Regions from separate parts of the Homo sapiens genome. Here region 2 is linked to region 1. Evidence: fine-mapped expression QTL. Tissue or cell type: aorta. Region 1 holds a variant in brackets; the other region holds the start of a gene. All regions are shown on one strand. Distances are from middle to middle.

Region 1 (5,153 bases):
TCCTTCTTTTGCTGTCTCCTCAGAGTAAAGGAAGTGCGTATGTCTTCTCACAGCCAATCAACTCTCCAAGTCTATTCTACCCCACAGTCCCTTCCATGGCCGGTAAACACTACAGGTGGTAATATCAGACATCTGTTTTATTCTTTCTGCTCTTTATGTTGTGAAAGGACTCCTAAATCATAAAATCATAAAATTTAAGAAGCGTAACTTAAAAATCCATCAGATTAATCCCATTATTGTGGAAATAAGGAAGCTTCAGAGTCCCACAGTTAATGGCACAGATCACACGTCCTAACTCTCATCTGGTGGCACTCTTTAGTCAGTGTCCCATCACAGCCTGCAAGAAAACCCTGCTGCAGGCCACGTGATGTCATTGCTGCAGCCCTAAGGGCCCTTTGACATGGGCGTAAACAAGCTGAGAATTCAAAGAAAGGTGAAGCTAAACAGGGAAATACTGTTAGAAATATTAGAATAGGCAAAGTGATTTTCACTCTTTAAAGTTTGTGTTCCAGGACAATGAATTGTTGGTCTATCACCCTCTCAAAAATGCAAGAGATGATAATGCTTTGTATTATCCCCAGAAAGATGACTATGGTCAGTATATTATTAGGTTAAAAAAAATAGGTTACAGGCCAGGTGCAGTGGGTCATGCCTATAATCCCAGCACTTTGGGAGGCCAAGGCAGGCGGATCACTTGAGGTCAGGAGTTCAAGAGCAGCTTGGCCAACATGGTGAAACCCCATCTCTACAAAAACTACAAAAATTAGCTGGGTGTGGTGGCAGGCGCCTGTTATCCCAGCTACTTGGGAGGCTGAGGCAGGAGAATCGCTTGAACCCAGGAGGTGGAGGTTGCAGTGAGCCGAGATCACGCCACTGCACTCCAGCTTGGGTGACAGAGTGAGACTTTGTCTCAAAAAAAAAAAAAAAAAAAAAAGTTATAGGCTGAGTGCGGTGGTCACGCCTGGGAGGCCGAGGTGGGAGGATCACTTGAGATCAGGAGTTTGAGACCAGCCTGGACAACATAGCGAGACGTTGTCTTGAACAAAAAAAAATGTTTTAAATTAGCTGGGTATGATGGCACGTGCCTGTAGCCCTAGTTACTCAGGAGGCTGAGGTGGGAGGATCACTTGAGCCTGGGAGGTCAAAACTGCAGTAAGCCATGACTGCACCACTGCACTTCAGCCTGGGCAACAGAGTGAGACCCTGTCTCAAAAAAAAAAAAGTTACAAAATTGTATGGAAACAATTATCTAAGCTATTTTAAGTGTGTGTTTAAATACACATCCAAAAGCCTGGAGGACTATATTTTAGGCAGCTAACAATTTATCTCTGGGAGTAAAATCACAGGGACATTCAATTTTGGTTTATTGTTTAAAGAACAATATTTGGTTTTTAATATTTTACAGACATCGTTATTCATTTAAAAGTCAATAAAGATATTTCCGAGAGAGGAATAGACTACCTGGCTGAAGACAGTGAACCTAGCAATGCTAGTGTTAGATATCAGTAATGACGGCAGGATACAGTTACAGTACTAAACCCTTTAAACAAGTGGTCTACTGGCTATTCAAAACTAGTTAGCATTTATTGGCAGTTACTGAGTGACCACGTTACCGAAACAGCCTGGCACAACAGTAAGTTCAGTAAATGGTAGATATTACCATTCATTCATTCATTCATTCATGCATTCATTTTGTTAACAGCTTATTGTGTGTGAAAGATTTGGTCCCAGTGGCCAAGGAGCACACTCTGGAAGGAGAAAGAAGACAGAAATTGTTGTGACATGGTGTGCCAACCCAGCTACTGGAGGATTATACACAGAGCCAGGGGTGTCCTTAGCTGATCTGGTGAAAGAAAAGTTGGTGATCTGGATTTAGGGCTAAGCCCACAATCTGTCACAAATTTTGCATAGAATATTAATTCTGGAACGAATGAGTCCAGTTCCTCTTTGAAAACACTTCTACAGAAGTTCCTGTGTAGATGAGCGTTAAAATAAGTGACTCAGGGCCTCCAGTAGTTTATGAGCTAAGAGGATCACAGGATAGGATAGGGACCGGGTTCCTCAGATGTTGCTAGATCAAATGCTTTACTCTTCTCACCCTAAGGGCTCCTGAATTTAGCTTTTTATTACACAGAACCCAGTAAACTAATTAATGGAAATCTAAAAATTATCCTTCCTCTTCTTAGAAAAGAAATATACTGCATGATGATTTGTGCTTTTCGATTTAATGTCACACAATCGTTTTTACACTGTATGTGCTTTCCCTCCCCACAGCCCCAGTCCCAGCCCCAGTCTCGCAGTTCCATTCCTTCAGGGCAGCTTCCATTCTACCGTGAGTTTTTATTGCTTTCCCCTAAAACGCTGCCCTGGAGTCGCGTTTATTGGACACTCTTTAGTCTGTAAAGGAAAAAAACACAAACACCGGAGGAGAATCATCCTAACAAGCCGACAACATATCTATGGGCCTAAAAAACTTAAATTCTTTCCCGTTATTAGCACTTCTCGATCGTTCCAGGAAAGCCCGATTTGTAGCTTGGCTGCCCCAGGAAGGGGCCTGCGACCAGAAAGATGCAAAGGGCGGGACAAGGTTACGAGTGGGTGCGGGGAAGCCTCCCTAACCTGGGGGCCGCGTCCCAGAGCTGCGAGCCACGCCTCCTCTCTCCCGCCCGCCGCGCCGCCGGACTCTTATTTTGAAGGGCGGCGGGTGAAGGCTCGGAGCCTCCTGAGTCACCCGGCGGGCGAGGTATAAAGCCCGATACCTGCCCCGCGCCCGGTCCGCGG[A/AGCCCGCTGCAGC]GCCCGCTGCAGCTCCCGCTCGCTCCGGACGCGGAATCGGGCAGCAGCGGGAGGCGGCCCGGAGAGCCGAGGTAGGCGCGGGGAATCGGCCCTGAGGCTGGTGGAAGAAATGTGTGAATTAAAGGGAGTGCAGCGTGCAGGGTGGGCCGCGAGTCGGGAGTGCAGGGCTCGGGACAGGGTGGGGGCGGGGAGGACAAGAGACTCGTCAGCGCACTTTCCACCCGGCCGGTTCCTTCCCGAGCCCTCTCCCTCCCCCGGCCCGCGGGAGCACAGATCCCTGAAAGCGGAGCTCCAGATAGGAATGTCTGCATCATCTTGGCAGGGCCCAGACGGGAGAAGATGCTCTGCTGCCACGGACGATCCCTCCCGCTCTCCTAACTCTTCTCTGAACACCTCGCACCCCCACGGCCCCCCGCCCCTCTCTTAATCTTGGCCACGCTCCCTGAGGGGTCAGACCTGGGGTGGGAGAGCAGAGAAAGCGGGGCTGGCAGAGACAGGGGTGAGGGCCGGGAGAGGCGATGACATCATTCCCTGGCAGCTGGCGGGGAGAGGGTGGGGACGGAGGGGTCCCCCCGACCTGAGCCGAGCCCTCCCTTCCCAAGCCCATCCTCCTTTCTTTGGGATGGTTCACCCCACCTGGGCGCCATTCAAAGGAAGTTTGCGCGTAACTCGGGGCGTCCTTTCCCCGGCCGGGTGCTGTGCCCGGCCCGCAGTCGGTGTTTCTTCTGGGCCTGGGGGCGGCGTGGAGCCGGCGGCTCAGTCCCCTCAGTCCCAGGCCTTGGCAGCCGCTTTGTTCACGCCGGGCGCGGGCCGAACCCGAACCTCAGCTGCAGCACTGGCAGCGCGCACCGGCCACGCGTGGGTTCCCGGCCACGGCCGGGCCAACAAGGGAGGGTCCCGTGAGCAGCCAGGCTGGCCCTCCCCGGGCCTGGGTGAGCTCCCAAAGCTGGAGCGCAGGGCTCTAGGCCGGCCCCGCCCCGGGGCTGGGGGCTTCCCGCCCGTTTGTCTCATTTTAACTTTTGGGGGCAGCTCTGTCCCGAATGGTGAGTGGTCCAGACTCTAGAAAGGGGTTTGGTCGCTTGAGCCCGGATTGAGGCTTGGGACCTTTGCTCTCTTGCTGGGGACGGAAGGGGGCGCGCTGGGCAGGAGAGGGGGCGTCTCGGTCGGGTCTCCCTGGGCTCGGGCATCTTCCCACCCTGCGGAGCCGGGTCTTGCGCTGCGTGCCCCGAACAGGCCCGGGCACACCGAGTCCCGTTACTGGTCTTCAGGCGAAATTCCAGGACGGGTGTGCATTCATCAACCTGGGAGTCTCTAGGAGCCAGAGATGACTGGCTCTACATTTTAATGCGTAATCACAGAGAAACTAGCACGAGAAAAGGACAGAGGGACCGACCCAAGCTTCAGAGACATGGAATAATATGATCCTGGTTCATAAGCCTTGAAAAGCTCCCCTCCGCCAGGTTAAGGAATGGTGTCACCAGCCTTGGCTGTGAGGATAATTTCTTGATTTGTGTTATGCAGGCTCCTGTCAGGACTGTCTCCTTAACTCCCACTACCTAAGGAAAAGATAGCCAGAGAATTGTCCAGGGATTTGGGTTTGGGTTGCTTCTAGAAAGACAGCATCTTTCTTGCTATTTTTTTTTTCACATCCCCCCAAAACAATTTTTTTCCCCCTTCAGACTTGGCAGACTTTGATTTAGATAAGAGGTTTGAGTTAATTTGATTTTCCCCATGTCTGTTTAGATCAATGGATATAGGAGATAGTTTGAAGCTAATGTACCCCTATGCCTTTGTGTGAGTGTAAGATTTATAACTTGAGGGAGGCAGTTAATAAATAGCACATCCTTGAACCATAAACATACGAGATAGACAAGAGCTAGATAATAAACAGTTTTTCCCCCAATCCCTAAGCTTTACTTATTTTTTTTACTGATTCTTGTACTTTGTCATTAGAAAAAGGAGTGGGGTTGGTTTCCCAGTGACCGCATTCATTAAGAAACTGGGCATGTACAGCAAGTAGCAAAATATGCCAACATCCACACCATCTCTGGCTATGTGAAAACTTGGTGCCCTGTGTGAGGAGCATGGGGGATGGTTGGAAATAATGCAGCTTTATTTTTATTGTGATTGTTGGAATTCATGAATCATAAAATTCTGATAGCTGGGATGGTGTGGTAGCTCACCTGCTTTAAATAATGTAATAACGACAGGCCCAGTCTGTCCCAGGTGAGGACCACTGACTTAGTAAACAATAAACAGGTGTCCTACTCATAGTAGCCTTAGTGTTGCTTCAGTAGATCCTTATGAGCTCTAGATAGTTTTTAGTTGACTTTTAATATTTTTAAAGGTAACAATAGGCCGGGCATAGAGAC
Region 2 (5,153 bases), 330 kb before region 1:
AGCTTGGTTTGCTGCACTATTTGCAATACACACACAAAAAGGTCACATTTCTGTGTCCTTTTGAGTAAAGTCATATCCATCTTTGAAGCCTCTCTCAGGACCACAAGCTGTTTTTTTTTCTTTTTTCTTCTTATGGCTTCATCACTTCACTGGTGTTATACCAGGATTTAGGAACCAAGCAATCCAAAGAAATGTGGGAGAGGCCTCGTCTGGCCAGTAGTCCAACATGATTGCCTCTGGAATTCACCATGAGACTCACAGTTCACCAGAAGGCAGAGGCAAAAATCAGAGTTGCCAATTAAAATTATTTCTAAAGATGGGTTCACTGCTTCCTATTCCCAAGCCTTTCTGAGACTCCATGGGGTGAATCACTTGCTTCTTTTCTGTATCTCCTCCTGCAGGCATTTAAGCTTTGTAATTTAGTTACATGCATACTTATATTTATCTCTTTCCAACAATTTTGTTCATTTCTGATATCTTCTATTGTCTTCCCTCCCAATTTCTGCCCTTTTCAGTTTTTACTATTATCTTGTGGTTTTAGGAAAAAGCAGATATAAATATGTGTTTAAGCAATGCTATGGTTTGAAGGTTTTTGTCCCCTTCAAAATTTTTGTTGATTCCTAATCCCCTATGCAACAGTATCAGGAGGTGTAACGTTTAGAAGGTGATTCAGGAGGACTCCTCATGAATGGGATTTGATGCCCTTAGGGCTTGATGGAGGAAGTTTGACCCCCTCTTGCCCTTCCACCTTCTGCCATGTGAGGACACAGTGCTCAAGGCATCACTGTGGAAGCAGAGACAGGAACTTCACCAGACAACAAACCTGCTGGCACCTTGATCTTAGACTTCCCAGCCTCCAGAACTATGAGAAATCAATTTCTGTTCTTTGTAAATTACCCAGTCTGTGGCATTTTGTTATAATGACACAAACTAAGACAATCAATCAGAGTTATATTTCCTTGTAAGTATAAATTTTATTTTTTTATTTTTATTTTTATTTTTTTTAAGAAGGAGTCTCGCTCTGTCACCCAGGCTGGAGTGCAGTGATGGGATCTCGGCTCACTGCAAGCTCCGCCTCCCGGGTTCACACCATTCTCCTGCCTCAGCCTCCCAAGTGGCTGGGACTACAGGCACCCGCCACCACGCCCAGCTAATTTTTTGTATTTTTAGTAGAGAGGGGGTTTCACTGTGTTAGCCAGGATGGTCTCAATCTCCTGACCTCATGATCCACCCACCTCGGCCTCCCAAAGTACTGCAATTACAGGCATAAGCCACCACGCCCAGCCGTAAGTATAAATTTTAAAATCACTTCTTAATTAATATAATAGATGAAATGACCCACAGAAGTATCCACTCACAGAAAGGACCATTTCTAAAGGACCAGTTTGGCCTATAAAGAAAATACAATAGCAGACCTTCACAAATTTTCTAACATCAGAAAAGAAAAAATATTTAGATATTAAACTGAATCAAATGTGATGGTCTTACCCAGACAAAGGAAGACTCAGCACCCCATTTCCAAGTTAACTGGGAGCTTTTGTGTTGCTCTTTTTGCCCCCCTTATATTTGATTCTGCTACCTGACCTTTAAACAGAAAAGCTTTCTCTTCTTGCTATCTATGTTTGTTATTTAAAAGATCAAAATATTAAACTCTTGCTATATCTATTTGTCATTTGAAAGATCAAAATATTAAATGATTGTGAAACATTTTTTGCAACTGTAAGAGGGTTGATACTTTTCCTGAATATTATTCATTCAACATTCATTTATTTCTTTGACAAATATTTAAGAGATGCTCATGATGTCCTAGGCATTGAGCTAAGAACTCAATGTTGCAATGTGGATAAGATCCAGTCCCTGTGTGTTCATACTTATTTAATACTATTATAGACAAGGCCTTTAATACATACCATAGTCATATATCAATTTTTAATTAGCAATATGAAATAAGAGAACAATGGGACTTTCCACTCAATTTGACAGGTGGCTAAATTTTCAGTTACTGAATTTACTATTTTAGGGTAATCTAGCACATGACCAAAATTTAAATGCACAGAACAGAAGATCAGAGTAAGAAGAGCTTCCATTTGGATTATCACTTTTTCTACTTGGAGTCACATACTGTACTTTAAATTGATTAAGAACATGTTAAAGGTCCAGGTGGTGATTTCCAGCTACAAGTCCAAAGTATAGAAGAATGTGTTTAAATCCTACGTTTATCAGATCCATAAATATAGTTCCTTCTATGTTAAGTGGCTTTATTTCTAAGAACCCAGCCCTCGGTCCTGGGGGTGCTTCCCAGCCCGCTGCTGGAATTCCTGATCGTGGCAGTCTGCTGAAACATGAGCTCAGTTACCAAATATAGCTGAGTGGAGTAAGAGGACAGATGAGAGTCTGAGGCCACAGTTGCCTCAAAGTGACCACGGACCAGGCAGTCTCTAATGAATAGGCAAGGCCACAACCTCCATTCTCCCAGAAAAGAAGAAATGCTCATCTGAAATTCATCACCTCTCTGGAGTCTTCAAACTGACCAAGCATTGAAAAGGTCTGTAAGGTGTATCTTAATATACTAACTAGTAGGGCAACATTTTAAGGACTTAAAAAAAAAAAAACTAAAAATACAAAAGTTTTTCTGAAGATATGATACTATTTACAAGATACCTTAATTATTCTTTTGCTTGGAGAGGAAACGTAATGAGAATGTTACGGTTTTGCCAAAAACAGATAATACGTAAGATTTGCCTGCCCACTTCATCTCTGCCTTTGCTGTCAGAGAATTACACTTTCTGTTATAAGCTTAAGCATGCTAAGATGGTGCTATCAATTCCAAAAGGATTAAATGTATTTATGGAGCCAGCTTTTGTCAAGATCGTGTATGTGTTATGTTTCACAGAAAAGGAAAACGCAGCTTTCTAGACCCTCACCCATATTTAAGCTAGATAAGTGATGATGGCTTAAAGTGATAGACCTTAGATTTCAGTAACATTATAAATTGTTAATTACACTTTCAAAAGATTCTAAAAGTAACTCACTGGACATAATTAAATGAGTTGGGATAGTAACAGCAGGTATTTTAAATTATATTCATGCATAAAATTTACATACATATTTTTAATAAGATAACGCTTACTAAGGGAAACCACAGTGCAATCTCGAGTCCAGTCAAGTTTAAACATCACAGAATAATTTTTATCATGTTGTTTTAAGTTGCACATGAAATTGTCTTGAATCCAATATAGGAGGTTGACATAAAATGATTTCAGGCTCATATTACTTATTAACATTTGCTAAAAATACTAATTGCCTTCTAGTATGAATAATGTGGTGACATATAAAGCCATTTCTTGGCAATATAAAACTATTACAAATCTATTCAATCACATATATGCAGAAATTAAATCCTCATTTCATGATAAATGTGCCTTCCAATGTTTTTTCTCACAGAAAGAACTTGAATACTCACCTCAATTATTCAGATTTTTTTTTCAGATTTTTAAAATCAAAGTCTCTTTGACAAGTTATTGCTAACAGCAGAAAAGGCCGATGAGGTTTATCTGGCCACTAACTGCCCTGTAAATACATGATTACACATTCCTAGAATATAAATTAGTCCTCTGGCATCCTAGAATCTGGTATGGATTAGGGTCTGTATCCCAGGGGTTCTGTGTCAGCTCTTCCTCTGGGTTTCTCTGTTATTGCTAGAGCTGAATATTAAAACTGGCCTTATAGCATATTTCACAATAGAATGAGGATCTGGATTGCACTGGACAAGTACAATCACTTTGACCTCCTTACCTCATTTTTTAAAAATGTAGAGGGCAATCATTATTCAGGTTTAAAAATAAATATGACAAGTTCTTTAAGAGATACCAAGTGGAATCTGCAAGGCCCAGACAAGAGCTCCACTTCTTAAACAATATGTGTGTGGAGGCTGTCAAAGGGTATTGCAATTACTGAGCTCCAGTTAGAAATTCAGGCCATCTAGAGTTAATGACTGTGTCCCGGTGAAATTACAGCAAAGAAAACAAAGATTGAACAAAGTATCTTCGACTAAAATTTCTAACTGTTAAATCATATTAGAGAATATAGAAGCAAATTTGGTAAATAGGTTTTGAATTTAAGTGAGAAGAATAAAGCCCTGAATTGGATAATGGTAATGGAAATGGATAATTCAGAAGTAAAATCTAAATATTTGCAATGGACTCAGTATGGTGAATAAAGTTGATAAGATGAACAGGACATGGGATAACTTCAAAAACTCTGTAAAGTATCTTATTTGGCTGTTTCTGCATTAAATGAGCTATTAGATTATGTCCTTGAAATTGAGATTAAATAAGCTGTTTAAAGAGATATTTAAAACTGTAGGATAAATATATCTGCCTGCATTGACAATTTAATAATTAGAAAGGAAAATAATCCATGTGTATTTATTAAGAAATAAATTATAAAATTGTAGTGCATTTTCTGCATCAAACATAAAATTTCATAAAATTTTCGTGTTTGACTTTTGCCCTAAAGGACCCTTTGTAGCAAAAAAAAAAAAAAAAAAAAAAAAAAGGAAGGAAGAAAGAAAGGGAGACGGGGAAGAAGGAAGGGAGAAGGGAGGGAGGAAGGGAGGGAGGATGGGAGGGAGGATGGGAGGGAGGATGGGAGGGAGGAAGGGAGGGAGACATGGAAGAAGGGGGAAGGGAGGCAGAAGGGAGGGAGGGGGGAGGGAGGAAGGGAGGGACTTTATTGATTTAGTCTAGGGGGGTTGCCTGTGATTCTGAAGCATGAAAATTAAGTGTTAAAGCTTTTCTAACTTTGGTTTTCATAGTTTAGGTTTTATTAAAAGATATTTCAATATCTAATATTTGTATCAATGGTTTGCATTACTTTTTTAGTAATTGCTTAAATATGAAAATAAAACTGCTAAACCTAAAATTAAAAATCACTTATAACTTTTTTTCAAAAATTACAAAATAAGCAACAAAAGATCCCCCTGCATGTCCCACCTTTCAACTCCTACCCCTGCCTAAATCCCCCCACAGAGGTCAGTGTTGATTGTTTGGTGTATGTTATTCCAACCATTTTCATATATTTATTCCTATCTATGTATACATTTTTAAATGACTATGGGAATTTAGCTATTCCACCTGGACTCTCTAAAGAAT

Alleles and levels. Positions count from the first base shown, and alleles are read on the strand shown. Sizes are in standard deviations (SD) of each study's normalised expression.
In carriers of allele A in region 1, the expression in aorta of the gene that starts at base 2,403 in region 2 tends to be lower than with AGCCCGCTGCAGC alone (moderate effect, 0.55 SD a copy in GTEx).

Evidence for each region. PIP is the estimated chance that this variant, and not a neighbour inherited with it, causes the effect.
Region 2: PALLD starts here. The variant in region 1 is fine-mapped to the expression of PALLD in aorta (GTEx, PIP 0.95).

The regions. Positions count from the first base shown.
Region 1 is chr4:168,829,320-168,834,472 of GRCh38, forward strand. The region is part of intron 10 of PALLD (palladin, cytoskeletal associated protein); the gene reads left to right. LOC124900809 (a long non-coding RNA gene) reads right to left here. Exons shown (of 2, transcript XR_007058361.1): 1 at 3,418-5,153; 2 at 2,207-2,397. Among named protein-coding and RNA genes, the nearest start is that of CBR4, 180 kb to the right of the region's middle. RefSeq lists an enhancer at 2,364-3,224. The variant A/AGCCCGCTGCAGC (reference allele first, on the strand shown) is at 2,782.
Region 2 is chr4:168,494,650-168,499,802 of GRCh38, forward strand. It overlaps PALLD (palladin, cytoskeletal associated protein), which reads left to right and starts at 2,403. Exons shown (of 22, transcript NM_001166108.2): 1 at 2,403-2,545. The region is part of intron 1 of LOC107986198 (a long non-coding RNA gene); the gene reads right to left.